Linked DNA regions of Homo sapiens: all the other regions are linked to region 4. The links come from fine-mapping of genetic effects on gene expression. A gene starts in region 4. Each other region holds a variant in brackets. All regions are shown on one strand. Distances are between the middles of the regions. Region 1 overlaps FRMD4B (FERM domain containing 4B). Region 2 has its middle 160 kb from the start of MITF. Region 3 overlaps FRMD4B (FERM domain containing 4B). Region 4 holds the start of FRMD4B (FERM domain containing 4B). Region 5 overlaps FRMD4B (FERM domain containing 4B). Region 6 overlaps FRMD4B (FERM domain containing 4B).

What was found. PIP is the estimated chance that this variant, and not a neighbour inherited with it, causes the effect. A credible set is the group of variants that fine-mapping cannot tell apart.
Region 1: its variant is the best candidate, but not a certain one, in a credible set for the expression of FRMD4B in whole blood (INTERVAL, PIP 0.75).
Region 2: its variant is the best candidate, but not a certain one, in a credible set for the expression of FRMD4B in monocytes after Pam3CSK4 (Quach 2016, PIP 0.55).
Region 3: its variant is the best candidate, but not a certain one, in a credible set for the expression of FRMD4B in whole blood (INTERVAL, PIP 0.68).
Region 5: its variant is the best candidate, but not a certain one, in a credible set for the expression of FRMD4B in CD4 T cells (BLUEPRINT, PIP 0.59).
Region 6: its variant is the best candidate, but not a certain one, in a credible set for the expression of FRMD4B in monocytes (TOPMed, PIP 0.60).

What each region holds. Positions count from the first base shown.
Region 1 is chr3:69,195,988-69,200,078 of GRCh38, reverse strand. FRMD4B (FERM domain containing 4B) reads left to right here. Exons shown (of 23, transcript NM_015123.3): 12 at 1,305-1,381; 13 at 3,041-3,179; 14 at 3,683-3,824. Among named protein-coding and RNA genes, the nearest start is that of LMOD3, 75 kb to the right of the region's middle. The variant G/T (reference allele first, on the strand shown) is at 2,327.
Region 2 is chr3:69,572,680-69,576,770 of GRCh38, reverse strand. No RefSeq gene overlaps it. Among named protein-coding and RNA genes, the nearest start is that of MITF, 160 kb to the left of the region's middle. The variant ATAAAAG/G (reference allele first, on the strand shown) is at 2,428.
Region 3 is chr3:69,334,519-69,338,609 of GRCh38, reverse strand. All of the region lies in intron 1 of FRMD4B (FERM domain containing 4B), which reads left to right. Among named protein-coding and RNA genes, the nearest start is that of FRMD4B, 50 kb to the left of the region's middle. The variant G/A (reference allele first, on the strand shown) is at 1,925.
Region 4 is chr3:69,384,025-69,388,115 of GRCh38, reverse strand. It overlaps FRMD4B (FERM domain containing 4B), which reads left to right and starts at 2,028. Exons shown (of 23, transcript NM_015123.3): 1 at 2,028-2,288. The coding sequence starts at 2,127. RefSeq lists an enhancer at 1,951-2,561.
Region 5 is chr3:69,244,496-69,248,586 of GRCh38, reverse strand. All of the region lies in intron 7 of FRMD4B (FERM domain containing 4B), which reads left to right. Among named protein-coding and RNA genes, the nearest start is that of LMOD3, 120 kb to the right of the region's middle. The variant G/T (reference allele first, on the strand shown) is at 1,917.
Region 6 is chr3:69,350,325-69,354,415 of GRCh38, reverse strand. The region is part of intron 1 of FRMD4B (FERM domain containing 4B); the gene reads left to right. Among named protein-coding and RNA genes, the nearest start is that of FRMD4B, 34 kb to the left of the region's middle. The variant C/G (reference allele first, on the strand shown) is at 2,443.

The DNA of each region.
Region 1 (4,091 bases), 190 kb after region 4:
TATTGTATAGACTATTAAAAATAATCTTTTAAGATTCTTTGAACATAATTTTAAAATCCAGCCGAAGTCTAATAATATAATGAAACTCTCTGCTGTTATTTCCCTAATCAAGTCTGGGGGCAGAGAAGAGGAATTTGACCATGAAGTCCAAGTTGACAGGACAAACCAAGGCTCAGGATAGTACAATGTCTTATAAAGAGCTTAGGAAGCAGCCCAGAAAACATAGCAAGGCATCCTCAATTCTGTGAATGAGCTGCTTTCTATCAAATTATTTGGTTTTCAAATGCACATTGCTAGTAAAGTTTGTTCCTCCCAATCAAACTGACGGCACTGAGTGCCGCAATAGAGTATCAGTAGTGTGTATATCAGAGTGTACAGACACTGGGAGCTAGCTATGTTCAAAAACTGGAGGTTCTAGCTCAGAAACCAAGAAGAGGCTCTGGTGTTCCCTCCTACCCCTTCTCTGCCCCCAATTACTGGTGCTAGGTTTCTGTGGCATTTAGGGGAACTCTTCATAGGTAGGAAAGTGGTATCTCAGAGAATCACCCCTGCATGGGGGTTCCGTTTTACTTTCACTTTGTATTCTTTTGAAATTCAATCTCTGATGTTATTGAAATATCCCTTTGAATATCTTTCCATTTAACTATGAAATCAACATCTTTGAGAAGGCTGGTGCTTACTGGAATCTGTGCAGATTTCCTTATTATATAGTTGAGTCAGAGGAAAAATAGTGTACATGTTCTTCCACAGATGGTTGGTTTTATTGTTCAAGGAAGATTTATTGGTGATGTGAATCTTGTTTTTTTTGAGACGGAGTCTCGCTCTGTCGCCCAGGCTGGAGTGCAGTGGCGCGATCTGGGCTCACTGCAACCTCCGCCTCCCGGGTGCACGCCATTCTCCTGCCTCAGCCTCCCGAGTAGCTGGGACTACAGGCACCCACCAGCACGCCCGGCTAATTTTTTTTGTATTTTTAGTAGAGACAAGGTTTCACCGTGTTAGCGAGGATGGTCTCGATCTCCTGACCTCGTGATCCACCTGCCTCGGCCTCCCAAAGTGCTGTGATTACAGGCGTGAGCCACCGCGCCCGGCCGAGGTGAATCTTAATAGTTAAAGATTGCTGCCAGAAGAAGGAATAAAATGGTTTCAGGTCATAGTTGATTTGTAAAAAGGCTGAATCACATATTCATGTTTCATCGTATCAGTGTACCTTCTTGGAGCTTATAATTGTTTGATTATTAAGCTGATTTATAGAATTAGTAAAAATAAGCATAAATAATACTTCCTGGCTTTTCTGTTTTCTTTAGTTATTCCAATGGAAACAGCTGGAGAACTTATATTTCCGTGAGAAAAAATTTGCTGTTGAAGTTCATGATCCACGAAGGTGAGGATCAAAGACGTTTCTCTGTATGACACAGTTACTATACAAATAACGCTGCTATCAACATTTGTGTACAAGTTTTTATATGAACATATGTTTTCATTTCTCTTGGGTGTATACCTAGGAATGGAATTGCTGGGTCAAATGGTAACTATCTTTAACCCTCTGAGGAATGGCAAGGCTGCTTTTCAAAGTGCTGCACCATTTTACATCCCAAGCAGCAGTATATGTGGTTCCAATGCCGACACATCCTCACCGACACTTGTTATTTTTAGTTTTGTGTGCATGTATAGTTTATGCCATCCTAGTGGGTTGAAGTGGTACCTTCTTGTGGTTTTGATTTGCACTTCCCTCATGACTAATGATGGCTGAGCATCTTTTCATGTGCTGCTTAGCTATTCCTATATCTTTAGTAGAGAAATGTCTATTCAGATCTTTTGCTCATTTAAAATGTTGGTGTTCTTGGTCATTTAAAAAAAAAAAAAAAAGCCAAATTACCAACATGAACTGAAGTCAGGATGTGGGTTCTCAAATATCTTAGGAGAAATCCCGCCCCCCTCCGCCCGCCCCCAACTGCCAGACAGAGTCTTACTCTGTCACCCAGACTGCAGTGCAGTGGCGCAATCTTTGCTCACTGCAACCTACACCTCCCAGGTTCAGGTGATGCTCATGCCTCAACCTCCCAAGTAGCTGGGAGTACAGGCATGCACCACCACGCCAAGCTAATTTTGTATTTTTAGTAGAGACGGGCTTTCACCATGTTGGCCAGGCTGGTCTCAAACTCCTGACCTCAGGTGATCCGCCCGTCTCCGCCTCCCAAAGTGCTGAGCCATGGCACCCGGCCTTAAGAGAAATTCTTAATCAGTCCTTAGTGGGTACTTTTCAGTCCCGAGATGGTTATGGATGTTTAGAGGCCAGAGGGATGGGAGGAAATACCTGTGATAAAAA[G/T]GTGACCTGAAGAGATAAGCCAAATTCCTACAAAGAACATTAGTACCACGTCACACACACACAGTCTGTCTGCCTCTTGCCTGTTCTCTCTTTCTTTCTCTCTGTCTCTCTCTCTTTCACTTCCCCTCCCTCCCTTCTCCCCGCTCCCCCTCTCCCCTCTCCCTCCTCCTCTCTCCTCCCCCGTCCCCTTTCCTCTTTCCATCTGGTGTACAAGCAGCACTCTGGACAGTTTTGGACTTGCATATTTTCAGCCATTATCGTTAAGTGCATTCTCTGATAATGTCAGAGCCGGCCAAATCTACCTAGATCTGAAATGCTCTTTTACCTTGAATTAGGTGCTCACCCCACACTTGGTTGCTGTTTCTTTAAAATCTTATCCCATTTATTCCTTACCACTTGTGATGGCTACACATCCTTAGAGTTTCTAACTAAATGTTTTTGTATAATCTCTAATTTGACTGATTCTTTATCAGCTTTTGAGTTCATGTGTATGTGTTTTTAAACATGCTGTTTATCCAGAAAGAGATTACTTAGGTCTGAATTGTTTTGTTGTAAAAGGAGAAAATCAGAAACTTGGTCCCCATTTGCGTAAGAGTTTTTGCAACAGAAGACAGGTAAGAGGAACATGCTTTGTTACAATGCTGCTCGCAGGGTACATTTTGCATCATGCTGGGCCAGAGGGGAATTATTTGAGTGCTTTCTTTAATCTTTCAGGATTTCAGTTTCAAGAAGAACCTTTGGGCAAAGTGGCTTGTTTGTGCAAACATGGTATGCTAACTCTTCTCTCATCAAGTCCATTTGGGTAATGGCAATTAGTCAGCATCAGTTTTACTTGGACCGGAAGCAAAGCAAAGTAAGTAACTGGCATCATTTCTATAGGGACAGATTCCCCTTTTGCATTCTGTTCAGAAGATAAGCCTTCTCACAAAAGATGCAAGCACATATATTTTTGCTCTCTGAGATTTTTTTGCGTTTAACTTCCAACTATTTCAGGTTTTTTATATGTTTACATGATGGGCAATATATAAGCTGCTTTAAAAGTTGTAAGACTGGCCAACTTTTTGGCATGCACGTTTGTATATACTGGTGACACTGCTGGCGGTGATGTTGCCGGTGACACTTCAAAGTTAGTAACTGAACCACACCATGAGAAAATCACGTATAGTTATTAAAACATTTTAACTACTTGTGGGGTTTTTGTTTTGTTTTGTTTTTTGGTCTGAAGAATGCCACTTGAATATGTGAAAATTCTAAATTATCCTCTGTGTTGCTATTTTTATTGTATGTTAACTTAATTGTTTCATTAATTTGAAGTATGTTTGAGTTAATTCTGTTTCATTGTTGTATGCCTCTTAGGCAAAAATTCCTTCAGCCAGGAGTTTAGATGAGATTGCAATGGATTTGACAGAGACAGGAACACAAAGGGCCTCCAAGCTGGTGACACTGGAGACGAAAAGTCAGTTCATCATGGCAAGTAATGGCAGTTTAATCTCCTCAGGTAACATCTTGGGATTAGAGAACGTGCAAGCCATCTTTATTTCGTTTGTTTTTTCGGTCATAAACCACTTCGAAATTCATCTTTTAATCCATTATTTTGGGAATAAATAAGTATGTCAATAAGTATGTATGCGACAGCTTTGAATAAAATTTTAAGGCTAATTTTTTAAAGAATATGTAGAAAGTCAAATTATAAATAGGTTGTGCATGTCATATGAGATGCAAGGATGGTGAGTACCAAGGTGTGGCTTGAAAGAACATTTTCCAC
Region 2 (4,091 bases), 190 kb before region 4:
TCCTCAGTAAAATACTGGCAAACCAAATCCAGCAGAACATCAAGAAGCTTATCCACCGTGATCAAGTGGGCTTCATCCCTGGGATGCAAGGCTGGTTCAATATATGCAAATCAATAAACATAATCCAGCATATAAACAGAACCAAAGACAAAAACCACATGATTATCTCAATAGATGCAGAAAAGGCCTTTGACAAAATTCAACAACCCTTCATGCTAAAAACTCTCTATAAATTAGGTATTGATGGGACATATCTCAAAATAATAAGAGCTATCTATGACAAACCCACAGCCAATATCATACTGAATGGGCAAAAACTGGAAGCATTCCCTTTGACAACTGGCACAAGACAGGGATGCCCTCTCTCACCACTCCTATTCAACATAGTGTTGGAAGTTCTGGCCAGAGAAATCAGGCAGGAGAAGGAAATAAAGGGTATTCAATTAGGAAAAGAGGAAGTCAAATTGTCCCTGTTTGCAGACGACATGATTGTATATCTAGAAAACCCCATCGTCTCAGCCCAAAATCTCCTTAAGCTGATAAGCAACTTCAGCAAAGTCTCAGGATACAAAATCAATGTACAAAAATCACAAGCATTCTTACACAACAATAACAGACAGACAGCCAAATCATGAGTGAACTCCCATTCACAATTGCCTCAAAGAGAATAAAATATCTAGGAATCCAACTTACAAGGGACGTGAAGGACCTCTTCAAGGAGAACTACAAACCACTGCTCAGTGAAATAAAAGAGGATACAAAGAAATGGAAGAACATTCCATGCTCATGGGTAGGAAGAATCAATATCGTGAAAATGGCCATACTGCCCAAGGTAATTTATAGATTCAAAGCCATCCCCATCAAGCTACCAATGACTTTCTTCACAGAATTGGAAAAAACTACTTTAAAGTTCATATGGAACCAAAAAAGATCCCGCATTGCCAAGTCAATCCTAAGCCAAAAGAACACAGCTGGAGGCATCATGCTACCTGACTTCAAACTATACTACAAGGCTACAGTAACCAAAACAGCATGGTACTGGTACCAAAACAGAGATATAGACCAATGGAACAGAACAGAGCCCTCAGAAATAATATCACACATCTAAAACCATCTGATCTTTGACAAACCTGACAAAAACAAGAAATGAGGAAAGGATTCCCTATTTAATAAATGGTGCTGGGAAAACTGGCTAGCCATATGTAGAAAGCTGAAACTGGATCTCTTCCTTACACTTTATACAAAAATTAATTCAAGATGGATTAAAGACTTATATGTTAGACCTAAAACCATAAAAACCCTAGAAGAAAACCTAGGCAATACCATTCAGGACATAGGCATGAGCAAGGACTTCATGTCTAAAACACCAAAAGCAATGGCAACAGAAGCCAAAATTGACAAATGGGATCTAATTAAACTAAAGAGCTTCTGCACAGCAAAAGAAACTACCATCAGAGTGAACAGGCAACCTACAGAATGGGAGAAAATTTTTGCGATCTACTCATCTGACAAAGGGCTAATAACCAGAATCTATAAAGAACTCAAACAAATTTACAAGAAACAAACAAACAACCCCATCAAAAAGTGGGCAAAGGATATGAACAGACACTTCTGAAAAGAGGACATTTATGCAGCCAACAGACACATGAAAAAATGCTCATCATCACTGGCCATCAGAGAAATGCAAATCAAAACCACTATGAGATATCATCTCACACCAGTTAGAATGGCGATCGTTAAAGTCAGGAAACAACAGGTGCTGGAGAGGATGTGGAGAAATAGGAACACTTTTACACTGTTGGTGGGAATGTAAACTAGTTCAACCATTGTGGAAGACAGTGTGGCGATTCCTCAAGGATCTAGAACTAGAAATACCATTTGACCCAGCCATCCTATTATTGGGTATATACCCAAAGGATTATAAATCATGCTCCTATAAAGACACATGCACACGTATGTTTATTGCGGCACTATTCACAATAGCAAAGACTTGGAACCAACTCAAATGTCCATCAATGATAGACTGGATTAAGAAAATGTGGCACATATACACCATGGAATACTATGCAGCCATAAAGAAGGATGGGTTCATGTCCTTTGTAGGGACATGGATGAAGCTGGAAACCATCACTCTCAGCAAACTATCACAAGGACAAAAAACCAAACACCGCATGTTCTCACTCATAGGTGGGAATTGAACAATGAGAACACTTGGACACAGGAAGGGGAACATCACACACTGTGGCCTGTTGTGGGGTGGGGGGAGGGGGGAGGGATAGCATTAGGAGATATACCTAATGTAAATGATGAGTTAATGGGTGCAGCACACCAACATGGCACATGTATACATATGTAACAAACCTGAACGTTGTGCACATGTACCCTAGAACTTAAAGTATAATAATAATAATAATAATAATAATAATA[ATAAAAG/G]AACATACTCTTGTTGCCAGGTATGGTGGCTCAGGCCTGTAATCCCAGCTACTTGGCAGGCTGAGGTGGGAGGACTGTTCAAGGCCAGGAGCTGAAACCTAGGAAAGGTGTTCAAGCAAAAATGAATTGACAAATGTCCACAATGAAGCCCTATTAAGAAATGTACAGTTTGCTGTGGTAGAAAACTTCATGGTCCTAGAGAGTAGCTATTAGCCAGCCACATGTGTCTATTTACATTTAAATTAAATTAAAAATTCAGTTCCTCAGTCTCAGTAATATATTTCAAGTACTCAATTGCTACATGTGGCTATCAGCTAATGTATCAGACAGCATAATTATACATTTCTATCATTGCAGCAAGTGCTTTTGGATAGTGCTGATACAGAAAGTTGAGTCTGATCTTGTTCTGAACGAATTGGCATGGTAGAACTAGGGCTGTACAGTGCAGTGAGACGAGTACTGTTGAGTGAGACTCTGGTTTCCAGTGACAACGCCACTTCTTTGTGGCATTCGGCAGCTCTTTTAGCCTTTTTAGGACTTGATTTTCACATCTATCAAACAAGGTCACAGTAATCGTAATGGAAGAAGTCCCTTCAGGCAGCCCCCAAACAAGACTCCCATAATTGGCCTTCTCCTGCCACTTATATTGGGTAAATTATTGGATCACGGGGTGATGTAGTGATGAGCAAGGAGTGAGGGGCTGTATTTCCACCTACCGGTGAACCCTTGAGGATTGTAACCTCTGCTATAACCCCTTTCTCTTACAGGCAGGTACCTTCTTGTCCCATTTCCCCTGCAGATCCAAATTCACTATTCACACTAAGTGTGAGGGCATTTCCAGACTAGCAGTTCAGTATAGGCAAGGATTATTACCAGCCACAATGGCACATTGTACAGTTAACTTGGTGCAGATTTCAGGCCTCAGTGTCGTTTGCCTTCTGTTTCACTCCCTTTCTCAAAACTAGGTGCCTGCAGCCTCTAGCTCTGCTTTTTCTTGCTAATTCACCTGACCCTCTTTACAAGGCTAAGGTCTTCTCTTCCTTACCCACTTTTTCCAGTTCTGGAGGTTCAAGGTTTGTTTCTTTCTGCGTATCAGTTAGCAACAAGACTCTAGGTAAAACAAGAACCAGTTCTTTCAGCTCTAACTCTACAAGTGATCCTGAATCCCTCTTCTCTCTATCTTCACTGCTACCTGCAAGCCATCCTTGCCTCTCACTGGGTCAACTGCCAGTTTCCTCAGTGATTAATGAATTCAATAAAATCTTTAACAAGTGCTTTCTTTAAATATTTGTATGAGCATCAGGATTTTACCCTTTTTTGAAAATTATATGTTAATAATACAATTTAGTCATTGATTAAATCCATCCCCCACAGCAGTTTGATCTTCACCCAGCAGCCAAAGTGGACCTTGTCCAATGGGTGAAGAAGAGGGTGCCTCTCTTTGGCTTTAAAGTCCTCCTATGGTTTCCTGGAAACTTCAAACAAAATTGAAAGTTCTTAAGGGGGTCTGGAGCCCATGTAGGATCTGGGCCCTAACTACATCTATCTCATCTCCTATTATTATCCTTCTCAATCAGATTGGAGGGAATAATTTGTGCTTCCATGAGCACTATACAATATCTAGACTCTAGAAGACATTCATAGAATCTGAATCAGGT
Region 3 (4,091 bases), 50 kb after region 4:
TGAAAACATGCAGTGTTTGGGTTTCTGTGCCTTTATTAGTTTGCTTATGATAATGACCTCCAGCTCCATTCATGTTGTTGCAAAGGACATTTTCTCACTTTTTTATGGCTGCATAATATTCCATGGTGTATATGTGACACATTTTCTTTTTTTATTATACTTTAAGTTTTAGGGTACATGTGCACAACGTGCAGGTTTGTTACATATATATACATGTGCCATGTTGGTGTGCTGCACCCATTAACTCGTCATTTAACATTAGGTATATCTCCTAATGCTATCCCTCCCCCCTCTCCCCACTCACAACAGTCCCCAGAGTGTGATGTTCCCCGTTCTGCATCCATGAGTTGTCATTGTTCAATTCCCACCTATGAATGAGAACACGTGGAGTTTGGTTTTTTGTCCTTGCGATAGTTTGCTCAGAATGATGGTTTCCAGCTTTATCCCTGTCCCTACAAAGGACCTGAACTCATCCTTTTGTATGGCTGCAGAGTATTCCATGGTGTATATGTGCCACATTTTCTTAATCCAGTCTATCATTGTTGGACATTTGGGTTGGTTCCAAGTCTTTGCTATAGTGAATAGTGCTGCAATAAACATACGTGTGCATGTGTCTTTAAAGCAGCATGTTTTATAATCCTTTGGGTATATACCCAGTAATGGGATGGCTGGGTCAAATGGTATTTCTACTGCTAGATCCCTGAGGAATCGCCACACTGTCTTCCACAATGGTTGAACTAGTTTACGGTCCCACCAACAGTGTCAAAGTGTTCCTATTTCTCCACATCCTCTCCAGCACCTGTTGTTTCCTGACTTTTTAATGATTGCCATTTTAACTGGTGTGAGATGGTATCTCACTGTGGTTTTGATTTGCATTTCTCTGATGTCCAGTGATGATGAGCATTCTTTCATGGGTCTTTTGGCTGCATAAGTGACTTCTTTTGAGAAGTGTCTGTTCATATCCTTTGCCCACTTTTTGATGGGGTTGTTTGTTTTTTTCTTGTAAATTTGTTGGAGTTCATTGTAGACTCTGGATATTAGCCCTTTGTCAGATGAGTAGGATGCAAAAATTTTCTCCCATTCTGTAGGTTGCCTGTTCACTCTGATGGTAGTTTCTTTTGCTGTGAAGAAGGTCTTTAGTTTAATTAGACCCCATTTGTCAATTTTGGCTTTTGTTGCCATTGCTTTTGGTGTTTTAGACATGAAGTCCTTGCCCATGCCTATGTCCTGAATGGTATTGTCTAGGTTTTCTTCTAGAGTTTTTATGGTTTTAGGTCTAACATTTAAGTCTTTAATCCATCTTGAATTAATTTTTGTATAAGTTGTAAGGAAGGGATCCAGTTTCAGCTTTCTACATATGGCTAGCCAGTTTTCCCAGCACCATTTATTAAATAGGGAATCCTTTCCCCATTGCTTGTTTTTGTCAGGTTTGTCAAAGATCAGATAGTTGTAGATATGTGGCATTATTTCTGAGAGCTCTGTTCTGTTCCATTTGTCTATATCTCTGTTTTGATACCAGTACCATGCTGTTTTGGTTACTGTAGCCTTGTAGTATAGTTTGAAGTCAGGTAGCGTGGTGCCACATTTTCTTTATCTGTTCTACCATTAATGGACATTTAGGTTGATTTCATGTCTTTGCCACTGTGTTTGTTTGTTTTTGTTTTTTGAGACAGAGTCTCACTCTGATGCCCAGGCTGGAGTGTAGTGGCATGATCTTGGCTCACTGCAACCTCTGCCTCCCAGGTTCAAGCAATTCTCCTGCCTCAGCCTCCAAAGTAGCTGGGATTACAGGCATGCGCCACCATGCCCAGCTAATTTTTTATATTTTTAGTAGAGATAGGGTTTCTCTCCCCAGGCTGGTCTCGAACTCCTGACCTCATGTGATCCACCCGCTTCAGCCTCCCAAAGTGCTGGGATTACAGGC[G/A]TGAGCCACCACACCCAGCCAAGCCATTGTGGGTATTCACTCATTTGATCCTCACAACAACCTTATGAATTTGGTCATCTTTGCATGCCCATTTTACAGATAAGTACCAGTGCAAAAGCCTTTTGGATTATTTCTCATTCTTCCACTTTTGCCTCACCCACTCCAGTTTGGTCTCCTCACAGTAAGCAGACTTATCCTTTATATATAGCCCCAGATTATCTTCTCCATGCCTAAAAGCCTCCATTGGCTTTTTGCTGCATCTGAAACAAACTCCATACTTCTTACTATGGCCTACAATGCAGTGAATGATTCTAGCCCAGTAGTTTCAGACTTTAGCAGGCATGAGAGTGACCTGGAAGGTTGTGAACACACAGATTGCCGGGTGCCACTCTCTATTCCTAACAGGCTCCAGTTGATGCTGCTGTGAGTCCTAAGACCACACTTCAAGAACCACTGATGAGCCCCTCATTAACTCTAAGCTTGTCTCTTGTTCTCTCCCTCTTGGTGACCAACCTCCAACCACATTTGTTGCCTTTTTTTTCTTAAACTGTGCATTCTCCATAGGGTGACTTCACCCCCCAAGGGAAGTTATAATTGGTTCTTGAGGGGTAAAGAAAATCTTAGGTATTACAATAGTTTTCAGCCCTTCAAAACTCAGTTCTTAGCCAGGTGTGGTGGTTCACACCTGTAATCCTAGCACTTTGGGATGCTGAGGTGGGCAGATCACTTGAGGTCAGGAGTTCAAAACCAGCCTGGCCAACATGGTGAAAGCGTGTCTCTACTAAAAATACAAAAATTAGCCGAACATGGTGGCACGCACCTGTAATCCCAGCTACTCAGGAGGCTGAGGCAGGAGAATCACCTGAACTTAGGAGGTAGAGACTGAAGTGAGCTGAGATCGCAGTGTGGGTGACAGAGTGAGACTCTGTCTCAAAAGAAAAAAAAAAAAAAAACTCAGTCCTGCCCAGCAGATAAGATATAAAGTATATCTGTGTTATTAACATTTCATGGGGGAGGAGGGTATTGGGGGAAAAATTGTCTAGAGAGGCTCCTTAAGAGTGCAATTATGGGGCCGGCTGCAGCGGCTCATGCCCATAATCCCAACACTTTGGGAAGCCGAGGTGGGCAGATCACAAGGATGCAAAAATTAGCCAGGCATGGTGGTGCGTGCCTGTAATCCCAGCTACTCGGGAGGCTGAAGCAGGAGAATTGCTTGAACCGGGAGGTGGAGGTTGCAGTGAGCCAAGATCGTGCCACTGCACTCCAGCCTGGGCAACAGATCAAGACTCTGTCTCGGAAAAAAAAAAAAAAAATGCAATAATGAAAAAAAAAAGTTATGCAACAATGTCTTAACCCAAGCATGTTCTGCCTCAGGGCCTTTGCACTTGTTGGCCTCTGTCTGGAATATGCTTTTCTCAGATCTGCCAAGGCTGAATCCTCATCATTGCTATTTCTGGCTAAATGTTGCCTCCTCAAATAGCCGTTTCCTAGCTGCTTTATTTATAGCATTTTAGAGAGTGTCTCACTCTGTCACCCAAGCTGAAGTGCAGTGGCGTGACCATAGCTCATAGCTCAGGGCATAACTCATAGCTCACTGCAGCCTCAAACTCCTGGGCTCAAGCGATCCTTCTGCATCAGCCTCCCAAAGTGCTGGGATTACAGGTATGAACCACTGGCCCAGCCTGCTCTGTCTAAAGTAACAACTCTCCCCATCACATTAGTCTGTATTCTCATTTTCATGGTACTTAACACGACCTGAAATCACCCTGTGTGTTGCTTGATTTGCTTGTTTTCTGGCTTTCTTCTTCGCTGGCAAGTCTTTGAGAGAGGAGCACTTGACTCTCTGGCTTGTGTCACTGTTGAGTCCCCAGAGCCTATTATAAAGTCTGGAACACAATAAGAGCTTGATGAATATTTGTGAATATGTGAATGGATGCTAGTCACACAGTGGATAAAGCAGTGGAGCTAAGATTTGGATTCAGGTGCTCAGACTTCAAATCACCTATTTAGCAACTACTGAAACCCAGGGGTCATTGAGTGGAAGGTACCCAGTAGGAAGAATGCTGTCACAGTTAACTGGGTCTATAGATGACAGTGCTCAACCTCTGAGTTATCCAAAAGGCACAGCAAAGAAGCAAAATGTTTCCCCTAAATTCCCCAGATCATT
Region 4 (4,091 bases):
CAGTCGAACTGCATCGTTTAAAAAAAAAAAGTACCACCACCATTTGCTCGTACTAATAGGGCATTTTTGAAGTTCAGTAGTTTTCCATTCAGCATGATGACAGTTCTTTTTCAAGCTAAGTTCATTTTCTTTTGATTCAGTAAAATCTATTATATTCAGATTCATCGTTACCATCATCTTGAAAAAAAAACCATCAATACTAATACTGATGGCACATAGAGAAGACTTATTGTGAAGAAAGGTTTGCAAATCTTGGACCAAGTCTTGTGTCCTATTAACTAATTCAACAAAAACTCTTGGGCAATTTTATTAACGAAAGAAATCTCATTTAAAAGTTTTCTGATTACAGTCACTGAAAACAACAGGCACTTTGAGGACAGATTTTGTGTTCTTCGTCTTTTGACTGATTGAGTTTCACCTGAATTAAGATTATAAAAGCACATTTGATACCTGAAATCAAGCTGATTTACTTGTCGATAATCTGTTCTGGAGTCTTCTGGGCTAGTTCAGGAGAAAAGCTTTGGTGCCTTACCTTTCCTTTTGGTGCCACTTAATAGCATAGATAACAACCCAGATGTGAAACAGCCAAGAAAATACAGACAATTGACTTACAGATGGATTCAGGAAAAAACTCCATCCTGAAATTTGCTACAGCACTTTTGCTATGAGAAATCTTCATACATTCTAAGGGAAAATGGAGGCTGGGCACAATGGGTCATGTCTGTAACGCTAGCACTTTGGGAGGCTGAGGCTGGAAGATTGCTTGAGCCCAGGCATTTGAAACCAGCCTGGGCGACATAGTGAGACCCCATCTCTACAAAAAAAATAATGATAATAAACTTAGCACCTGTAGTCCCCGTGGCTGAGGTGGGAAGATGGATCACTTCATCCCAGGAGTTCAAGGCAGCTGTGAGCTATGATTGAGTCACTGCTCTCCAGCCTGGGCAACAGACCTTGTCTCAAAAATAAATAAAGGAAGACAGAGACTGGTGGTAGGCGAGACTCCTTGAGCTCCCTTTTCCAAATGTTTCCAACAATCAGCATCAATTCCCGAGGGAAAACTTTAATAAATAAATAAATAAGATTAATTATCTAGTGACTTCATGAGTGGTGGAACAGTTTCCTTTGGTTTTGAGGGGAGAATAAACTACCCATGCAGGTTGGTGCTTGCAGGTGAGGTTAGACATGTCCAGAGGCTGAATTTTCCAGAACTAAACCACCGATTCTCTTATGGGCTTCTGTTTCCCAGCACTAGTAACGGCAAGCTATTTACAAGGGACCAAGAACTCTGTTTTTCTCCCTGACTGCTGCATTGGTATTAGCAGCATCTTGGTGTGAGGAAACCTGCCTTCCTGCTGGCAACCACAGGAGGCTGTCATTTTCTCTGAGACCCTCAAGTTAGGAGCAAAGGCAGGTTCTAGGGCCGCCTGTTGCTTTGAGACTGTTGCCTTCATCTCCTGCTTCCAGCAGAACCAAGGAAACATTCGTGGCTATTCCCCCAGGAGTAGGGTCCAAAGGGATGCCTTGGAGATTTTTTTTTTTCTCTCTCTCTCTTCTGCATCTGTGGCTGCCCAGAGGTGTTTTATCAGTGTGAACAGAGCAAGATGAGTAAGGTGTTCCCCGAGGCAGATTAGGAGACCACTCGTCCGGTGTGGGGGGTGTGTGTCTGTGTGTGTGTGTGTTCGCGCGCGCGCAAGACGTGGAAGCCAAGTGTGCTGAAATGCAGCTCCCCTCTCTGCCTGCAAAGAGTTGCTCCGCTTCCGTCCCTGCCCCGCGCCCTGGGGAAGCGCCAGGGGGAGTCCTCGCCGGCCAGGGCTTCCCGTGCCCCGGGAGCATCGAGGGCCAGCTTGGTGGAGCTTAGCACAGCTTGCTCGGCGCTGCGAGCGGGCGGGGGTGGACACTGGGCTTCTGTGTGCCAGTCGCAGCCGTTGGCTGGCGGGCACCCAATCCCAGGGCATGCCGCCGGAGCCTGGCCAGGACGCACGGTGAAAGACGAGTTTGGTGGCAGGCTTGACCCCCCGGCTGCCAGCAGAAGCCGGCGTCGGGAGCCCAGGCGGGCAGGCCGCTGGGGTCGGGGCTGCACGTACGAGAGCCGGGACGCCCGGGTTCAGAGCGAAGGAGGAGGCATGGCTTCGGTGTTCATGTGTGGCGTGGAGGACCTGCTGTTCAGCGGCAGCCGCTTCGTATGGAACTTGACCGTGTCCACGCTGCGGAGATGGTACACGGAGAGGCTGCGGGCTTGCCACCAGGTGCTGCGGACGTGGTGCGGGCTGCAGGACGTGTACCAGGTGAGCTGGAGCGCGCGGCACCCGAGGGCCCCAGCAGGATGCCGGGCACTCGTGGGAAGCAGGCTCCACCTGTATGATTTTATTCCCCCCAGCTCTTCTTAAACTCCTAGCAGACTGCTTGGCCCTTGGGTCAAACGCTCAGCAGCTCTAGGTAATTATTGCTTGACAGAGCTTGTGAATTTTTCAAATCGGGCATGGGGGGCACTTGCGAGATAGTCCCAGCGTTTGCAGACATCTGTTACAGAGCAATGGTGTACTGGCGGGCGCTTGACTAGGGAGGCTGTTGCTTTGCAACAGAGGGTCTTCAGAAAGCCACTTAGACATTCAAATGAGTCCTTCTTTTTAATTTCATTGGGGGTGGGAGTGGCTGCTTCTGAAGCAACGGTTTCACACCAATTTGCTGGCAGAGGGGGCCTTGGTGGATTTTTATCCTTCCGTTGGATTTTCAGTTTTCCATCAGGCAGCCCCAACTTGTAAGGCAGAGCCAGGAAAAGCTGATTCTGTGTCTACTGGCTTTTGGAAGGAAGGACAGCAAATTGTGAACACTTTGCAGGAGGATGACAGGCTGGGGAAGGGAGGGGTGGCCCGGCTACACGTTGGAATGCTCATGTTAGGATTTACTCCCTGTCACACAACACAGCCCCTTTATTTCTCTGCTCGGTCCCATCCTGCAGGCAAAAAATGCAGCAACTTTGCTCAACTAGGAGACCATTCATCCTCTCTGGTACTGCAGTTTGCCTGGATTTCTTTTTTTTTTTTTAGACAGTAATTTATGAATTTAAAAGTTCTGTGCTTTGGTTGTTAATATATTTGAGATTTTTAAAAATCTGCATTGTTTAGAAATATACTTGGTGTCTACTGTGGAAAGATAATATCATATTTTCTTTCCTGTGATGTGGAATAGCTTTGTTGCAGTTCCTGGATTTCCCCCCATTTGACCCTGTTCCTAATATGTCTAGAATTTATGTCTTATTATATTGTGTCTCATACATGATCAAGCACTTGATTTTGACAAACCATAATCTTCCATCAATCAGGCAAAATGAAAAGGCCAGCACCTAAGGTTAGCCTGTGGAAGTCTAAAGAGTCAGCGTCCCCTTGTCACCCTTGTTAAAATATGAGGAACATTTGAACTTGTGCTTTCACTGCTTCTGCTTTGTATAACATATCTGTGATATCTTGCATTTTGAAATGGAATCTGAAAGGCAGGTTGGGAACCAGGGCAGCATGTGGGAGTTTGAGAGTATTAGGGAATTGTGGATATATCCCATCTGGCCACATTACATAGCTCTCTGGCTTTTTGGAGCCAGAAGTGTGTCTGTCTTTCAAGCCTTTTTTTTCCTCTCTTGGGAAATCCCTGTTCAGTTTGGTCTGTAGAATAAGTGCCCCTTATGTAATTTTGTTTTTCCTTTTTAGTGTTTGAGAAACTTTCAAAAAGGGAACGCAAATATTGTAGCCAACCAGAGTGACTCTGTGCCTCACTCCCCAAGGATTCAGAGGATTTATGGCTTATCTGTAATACTGTTACTGACCAATTCAAAAATAAAGATTCCAGAAACCTGAGACCTTATGGATTCTTTATAAGGTTGACTGATAATTTTTATGCAGAATAGCAATTTGAGACACTGAGCTACTAAAATATATGTATTTTTTTCTTTTCTCTAAAATGGATGGTGACTGAGCCAATACCATATCATAATTGATAAGAACATCTAAAATAATGGTGGTAGTCAGGCAGTGTGCTGTGTGTCTATAATCCCAGCTACTCAGAAGGCTGAGGCAGGAAGATCCCTTGAGCCCAGG
Region 5 (4,091 bases), 140 kb after region 4:
ATGACCCCTTTGAAAGCCTGGCCTCTACGATGTTAATGTTCGACTCCTGGTAGACGTTACTCGTAGATTATTTACAGATCACCTAGCACTCATTCCCAGCCAAGTCTTTGAATAATGTGCCCCTTAACGGACTAACAAAATAATGCCTTCCAACCTTGAAAACTTCCAGTTACGGAGTTGTACTTCAGTTCGGAAACTCCCAACACTCTCCTCATCTTCCCATTCGGCTTTGGTAGAATGTTCAAGGATGCCACTTAAAACACCATGATTCCTCACCACAATCTCCCACCAGTTCTGTTTTGTGCTCTCTCTATATATATATATTTGTGTGTGTGTGTGTGTATTTACATTTTTCTAGGTTAAGAAATTTGAAGAAATCATGAAAATCAAACACCAGTTGTTTTTAATGGAAAGAAAGGGGCAGGAGTTTAAAAAAAAAAACAAGAGTATAAGGTAGTTTACAGACCATTAGTATCATTAAAGGCTCACGCCTGAGGCCGGGCATGGTGGCTCACGCCTGTAATCCCAGCACTTTGGGAGGCCGAGGAGGGAGGATCACTTGAGGCCAGGAGTTCCAGACCAGCGTGGCCAACATGGTGAAACCCTGTCTCTACTACAAATATAAAAATTAGCTGGGTGGCCGGGCACGGTGGCTCACGCCTGTAATCCCAGCACTTTGAGAGGCTGAGGCGGGCAGATCACAAGGTCAGGAGATCGAGACCATCTTGACTAACACGGTGAAACCCTGTCTCTATTAAAAATACAAAAAAATTAGCTGGGTGCGGTGGCGGGTGCCTGTAGTCCCAGCTACTTGGGAAGCTGTGGCAGGAGAATGGCGTGAACCCGGGAGGTGGAGCTTGCAGTGAGCCGAGATAGTGCCACTGCAGTCCGGCCTGGGCAAAAGAGCGAGACTCCGTCTCAAAAAAAAGAAAATTAGCTGGGCATGGTGGCAGGCACCTGTAATCCCAGCTACTCAGGAGGCTAAGGCAGGAGAATTGCTTGAACCTGGGAGGCGAAGGTTGCAGTGAGCCAAGATCGCGCCACTGCACTCCAGCCTGGGTGACGGAGTGAGACTCAGAAAAAAGCTGCTGTGTCTCTACTGTTGTCTTCTCCAGAAAAGCCACGTTTCCTGGGAATATCAGATATGCAAGGAACACAGTCATTTATGGGGGTGATTTTTAAAAAACAACCCTGGATAAGAAATCATACGGGAGGTGATTCTAAAGTCAATTTGTAAATGAGGGTTTCAGGGCCCAAAAGCTCACACTCAATGGATTGCTAACCCACCTTCCCCACTTAGCCCCAGTCAAGGCTGTGACTGACACCCTCTGAGCCTCAGTTTCCTCATCGGTAAAATGGTACCTTTCCCATAAAACTGTCATGAGAATCAAATGTATGTAAACGTTGCCCAGGGCAACATCTGGCTTATAGCAAGTAATCTACACCCTTGGGCTATTATTATTAATTTAGTTATTATTATCCTCATTATTACTATCATCCTATCTGGTCTCTTATCTACCTCTGATGAGACTTTTGAGACTAAGGTTGGTCTGAAGAAGCTGTAATAACCTATAGTTATGGGGGAGGTGGAGAATAGAAAAAGAAAGGGTAATTTCACAAACCTTCCTTAGGGAAGATCCCTTGCCTGAGGCAAAGGAAGGCCTAAAAGGGACAGTCCTTCAGTTGTTCAAACATTTGAGCCCTAGGACATCAAGGTTGGCGAGTTAATTCTGGGCAAGCCCAGTCCAGACCTTTGCCTTCACTCGAGCTTGTTCCTGGTGGTTTTCCTGAGTGATCACGAGGTTGAAGTGGCGCACACTGTTTTGAAATTGTCCAAACTACACTAAGTAGTGGAGAGAGCGTGGGACTGGAAATCACGCAGACTGGCAACATCCCTCTGAGTGGCCACTTATCCT[G/T]TCTGAGCCTCGGTTCCCTCATCTGTAAATTGGGGTTAATCAAAACAATGGCTTTGCAGGTTGGTTTTCAGGACATGTGGGAGCATTTTGCAAATTACCATGCTCTCCCTATCTGATCTTCTCCCCTGAATAGAGAGGATATGTTTTTCCTCCAAAGTTTTGTTCTAAAACTCCTCTTTGTTTTTCTTTTGTTTTATTTTGTTTTTGTTTATTTTTGAGATAGAGCATTGTTCTCTCACCCAGGCTGGTGTGCAGTGGCATGATCTTAGTTCACTATAACCTCCACCTCCTGGCTCAATCAGTTCTTTCATCTCAGCCTCCTGAGTGGCTGGGACTACAGGTACACACCATCACACCTGGCTAATTTTTGTATTTTTTGTAGAAACAGGGATTCACCATGTTACCCAGGCTGGTCTCAAATTCCTGGGCCCAGCTGATCTGCCTATGTTGGCCTCCCAAAGCGCCGAGATTACAGGTGCAAGCCATCGCACCCTGCCTTGTTACAAAACTCTTCTGAGAAAATCAGGCGCCGGGTGCCGAGCACAGTGGCTCACGCCTATAATCCCAGCACTTTGGGAGGCCGAGGCAGGTGGATCACCTGAGGTCGGGAATTCGAGACCAGCCTGGCCAACATGGAGAAACCCTGTTTCTACTAAAAATACAAAATTAGCTGGGCATGGTGGCACATGCCTGTAATCCCAGCTACTTGGGAGGCTGAGGAAGGAGAATCTCTTGAACCCAGGAGGCAGAGGTTGTGGTGAGCCGAGATCACACCATTGCACTCCAGCCTGGGCAACAAGAGTGAAACTGTCTCAAAAAAAAAAAAAAAAAAAAAACAAATTAGCCTGGCACGTTCGCAGACGCCTGTAGTCCCAGCTACTTGGAAGGCTGAAGCGAGATAATTGCTTGAACCCAGGAGGTGGAGGTTGCAGTGAGCCAAGGTGGTGCCACTGCACTCCATCCTGGATGACAGAGTGGGACTCTGTCACAAAAAAAAAAAAAAAAAGAAAAGAAAATCAGCCAAGGCCAGGTGCAATGGCTCACTTCTGTAATCCCAGCATTTTAGGAGGCCGAGATAGGCGGATCACTCGAGGCCAGGAGTTTGAGACTAGCCTGGCCAACATGGCAAAACCTTGTCTCTACTAAAAATACAAAAGTTATCTGTGCATGGCAGCACACATCTGTAATAACAGCTCCTGAGGAGGCTGAGACACAAGAATCGCTTGAACCTGGAGGTGGAGGTGGAGGTTTGCACTGAGCTAGAGATCGTTCCACTGCACTCCAGCCTGGGCAACAGAGCAAGACTCTGTCTAAAAACACACACACACACACACACACACACACACACACACAAAGAAAGTCAGGCAAAATAAAATACCATGAGGCAATGTTGTAGTGGTTAGAGCAAAGACTGTGGAACCAGACAGCCTGATTCAAATGCCAGCTTGGCTACTTATTACCTGTGTAATCTTGAACAAATTACTTAAAATCTCCAAGCCTCAGTTTCCTCATCTGTAAAATGGGACTTACAATTATAATACACACTCCATAGGATTGCTGTGAGGATTAAATGAATTAATATTGCATTTGTAAAGTATTTAAAACAGTTCCTGTAATCCATCTTATTTTACCAAATTGATGGACATGATGGACTCCCCTATTGTTACAAATATTACTTGTTTCCCATATAAATAATGGGAAAAAAGATGTTCATCATGGCCTTATTTATATTAGCTTTTTTTCCCCATAAAGCTAATATAAATAATGCTGTGATGAACATCTGTGTGTATTTATTTTTAGTCTTGCTCTGTTATCCAGACTGGAGTGCAGCTCATTGCAACCTCCACCTCCTGGGTTCAAGCAGTTCTCCTGCCTCAGCCTCCCAAGTAACTGGGATTACAGGCACATACAACCATGCCCGGCTAATTTTTGTATTTTTAGTAGAGACAAGTTTTCACCATGTTGTCCAGGCTGGTCTCAGACTCTTGACCTCAGTGATCCGCCCACGTCAGCCTCCCAAAATGCTGGGATTTTTGTTTAAACAGAGTCTCGCTCTGTCGCCCAGGCTGAAGTGCAATGGTGCCATCTTGGCTCACTGCAACCTCCACCTCCTGGGTTCAAGAGATTCTCCTGCTTCAACCTCCCAAGCAGCTGGGACTACAGGCATTGAGACTG
Region 6 (4,091 bases), 34 kb after region 4:
TCTTTTTTTCAGGAGGGAGAAGCATGATACCCTGTCACAAACTTTTACTTAGTCATTCTCTTTTTTTAAAAAAAGTAAATTTATTATTTTTCCAGTATTCTATATGTTTTTCTCTCTGCCTTCAAGCATAATGTATTTTGATTATTTCCTATTCACTGAATGACTTCAATAGTAATGATTTCATTAAATGCAAATAGTGAAATGAATCTTTTCTGAGACCACGTCATTCTGCCAAGATTTTCTGTTGTGGCTGGCATCTCTGATTGATTTTACTAAGGTTGTTCCATGGAATTCTAAGTTTCTTTCTGAGTGGAAAAGCTGTTAACATCAACTGGCTGTGAGTAGCAAAGTTGAGTTAAATATTGTTTTTATTTATATTCATTAAATTCCCAGCCTCATCCAGAACATGCATAGAAGTTTAGATTCATACATGGCATCGCCTATCTCTGAATAATTACCCAACCTAAAGCTTGCATTATCAAGGAAGTTTAGAAAACAGTAGATGACATTTCATCATATGTTTTAAATGTGTTGTAAAGAAAGCGTTTGAGTGGCCAAAAGAAATAGCAGAAGTTTTTTAGTTGTTTTTATTTTCCCATTTCTCCCGTGACTCATATTGAAAGGCTTTTGTTTCTAATCAAAGAAACAAACAGTATGGTCATTTCCTTGAGATTATATGGCAGCGGAAGGCGTCGGGAGTTTTTAAGTTCCTACTTCCACTGGCTTGTAGTTGGAGAAAATGCAAGCACATGCGCGCACACACACGCGCGCGCACACACACACACACCGCACAAGTGCTTAATACGTGTGTCTTTTGTCTTAAGCACTCTCTTCAGTTCCTTTAAATGAGCCGAGGTCATGGTGGTTCGGAGGTAAGAATGATTTTTTTTTATGATCTTCCAGTTGCAGACTGTGTAACGGTGCTTCTTCAGCTTTGACTGGCATTTCATAGCAAAATCTTGGGCAGATTTTAATATTGTACTGGGGGTGGACTAATCTAAGAACTAATATTGCAGAACCCAACTTGCAGAAAAGGAAATTACAAGAAATGTTTATCTTCACTCTTGTGAAGGAATTACTTTTTCCAAAACGGAGTTGGATGTGCTCTGTTTGATACCAAGTGAAGATGGTCCTTAAAGACGCCCATCGTCTGGAGGGTTTTCCTGTCATTGTTTTAATGCTATCTTTGCTCCTTTAAAGGTCGTGAAAGGCTGATTTCTTATTTTGCTTTAGAACTTTGGCAAATATGAAGTATGTAATTCCACTTCATCACCCTTTCCCCTGCTCCCACCACTCTCCTTTTTTCTTCTTCTTTTTTTTTTTAAATTTTAAATACTGGAGTTTCTTTATGGATGTAGAAAAGACAGAGAGAGGGCAGGAACTGTGTCAGTAAGCAACACAGAAATGCTTTTTGATTTATAATTGTTCATCGTTTCATCAGCAAGATGTGTTTGGGGCCTTCCCTGTTTTTGTGAACACTTGGCAACAAAAATTCCGTGGTGTCCTAGAGCTCATTAGCAGCCCATCTGAAAGGATCCTTTGATGTGGGTCCCTGCTTTGCCTCCAGAAAGAAGAAGGAAAATTGAATTTTGTCCTCCAGTCTAGTTTGTGGTGAGGATTCTATGTGATCAGAATTCAGCAGTTCAAGATAGAAACCTCGGAAATGCCATTTTTGGGGACGGCTTCCAATTAATTAATAAAACTTTTATGATTTGTCAGAGGAAGTCCTACATCCTTATTAAAGGGAAGGTTTTTTTTCTTTGCTGCCTTGTAATGTGGTTATGGCAAACTCATTAAGTCCAACTCCATGTGGCCATTTTTCTTCCTTGATGGGTAGATGTTGATGGTGGAGGGGAGGAATATCTGGGTAAAAAACAAAGGAAATTATCTCATCCAGTAGACTGCAAAACTCCTGGGGATAGAAGGAAGTCTGTAGAGGAAGTGGGCAGGATTGGGTAGAGAAGAGAAACATCAAAGAAATTAAATATATCACAATAGGAACTGGAATAGTACCCTTTTGCTATAATGTAACAACATAATAGTGTAGCCTTAGAAATGAGTCCATTGTCTCTAAATCGGTCCTATCTAAAGGTATCTAATGTCCGAAGGAGTGAAAAGGAATATAATCTTATCCAAATGCAGTCCTGTGACCTGGATTCTCAGAGTGACATTATGGTGACCTAAGGCCTCATTATAAATGATCCTGTTCTGAAGATTCAGGCCATAGAACATCCTGAGAAGTAAGACTATCTTGTTATGCAGCTCTTTCAGGGGTCAGAAACTACAGCTCTTAGCAGAGGGCCTAATATATTCCCAGATATACCAAGTCCCACTCCAGAGCATACTCTGTGTGTTCCACTGTGTTTGATCCTACATTTGAAGTATGCAGGGAAGTTGTTACTACTAGAATGGAGGTTGCTGCAGACAGGTACTATGTCTCAC[C/G]CATGGAGAGAATTCCCAGTAACTATCAGGAGGCAGGGTGATGGGTGGTGGACAAATATTATTGGCTGAGCAGAATTGTTAGATATATTTATGCCATGGAACATTTAAACCAGAAGAAACCTTGTAAGTCACTTTGTCCAATCTCCTCATTCTGTTACTGAAGAGATTAAAATCCAGAGAAGAGGAGGAATTTTTCTAAGACTTCCTATCCCGTTAGGGGCAGGGCACAGCCTGGATTCTGGATCTCCTGAGTTCCGAATCTATGCTCTGTCCACCCTTTGCCTTTTCTGGGCCAGAGGATGATTTTGCCTAATTTCCAGCATCTCTGAATTTCATGAAGCAAGAGTTTCTTTACATGGGTGCGTGCATCTTGGAATAGAAAAGTGGGAGCTGCATCCAAATGAGATTCTGCTTTCTGTTCTGCATGGTTTCCAATTGCTAGCAGAAGCCTGTGCACAGGTGTGCAAAAGACCCCAGGAAAAGAACTACATGTCTTGTCTCTTATCACAAAAAGCTATAGTGCTAGGTAAAACCATACTAAAACACTTTCTCTTTGTTTCAAAAATATTTTGGCAACCTGAAAATACTAGTGAGCTCTCAGCAGAGGCCTGTCTCGGGATCATAATTCAAGTATGAGACTTACGTTTGTCCCTGAGGTAGATTCTGTGAAGCTCCAATTAAGACTTTTTTCTTGCTTAATGTTGGAAAACTAGAAAAAATTTTAAATGCAATATTTTCCTAAACTGGAAAAGTAAGCCTGAGTACAGGTAAACTATACATTAATATATGTTTATGTGATTTGGCAAGGTTAAACAATCAATTTATTATTCCAATAACAGCAATCTAAGAAAGGAAGGTATTGGGCTTGCTGTATACTTCAGTTGCTTTTTTTTTCCTTAAAGGAAGCTTTTGTAGATCAGGCTGTAAAGGTATGCACACTTCTGTTGTCTTGTATTGGTTTATTTTCTCATTTGGTTTTCTTTTTTTATTATTATTATACTTTAAGTTCTAGAGTACATGTGCACAATGTGCAGGTTTGTTACATATGTATACATGTGCCATGTTGCTGTGCTGCACCCATTAACTCATCATTTACATTAGGTATATCTCCTAATGCTATCCCTCCCCCCTCCCCCCTCCCCACACCCCAAGGCAGGCCCCAGCGTGTGCTGTTCCCCTTCCTGTGTCCAAGTGTTCTCATTGTTCAATTCCCACCTGTGAGTGAGAACATGCAGTGTTTGGTTATTTGTCCTTGCGATAGTTTGCTGAGAATGATAGTTTCCAGCACCATCCATGTCCCTACAAAGGACATGAACTCATTCTTCTTTATGGCTGCACAGTATTCCATGGTGTATATGTGCCACATTTTCTTAATCCAGTCTATCACTGTTGGACATTTGGATTGGTTCCAAGTCTTTGCTATTGTGAATAGTGTCACAGTAAACATACATGTTCATGTGTCTTTAAAGCAGCATGATTTATAATCCTTTGGGTATATACGCAGTAATGGGATGGCTGGGTCAAATGGTATTTCTACTGCTAGATCCCTGAGGAATCGCCACACTGTCTTCCACAATGGTTGAACTAGTTTACAGTCCCACCAACAGTGTCAAAGTGTTCCTATTTCTCCACATCCTCTCCAGCACCTG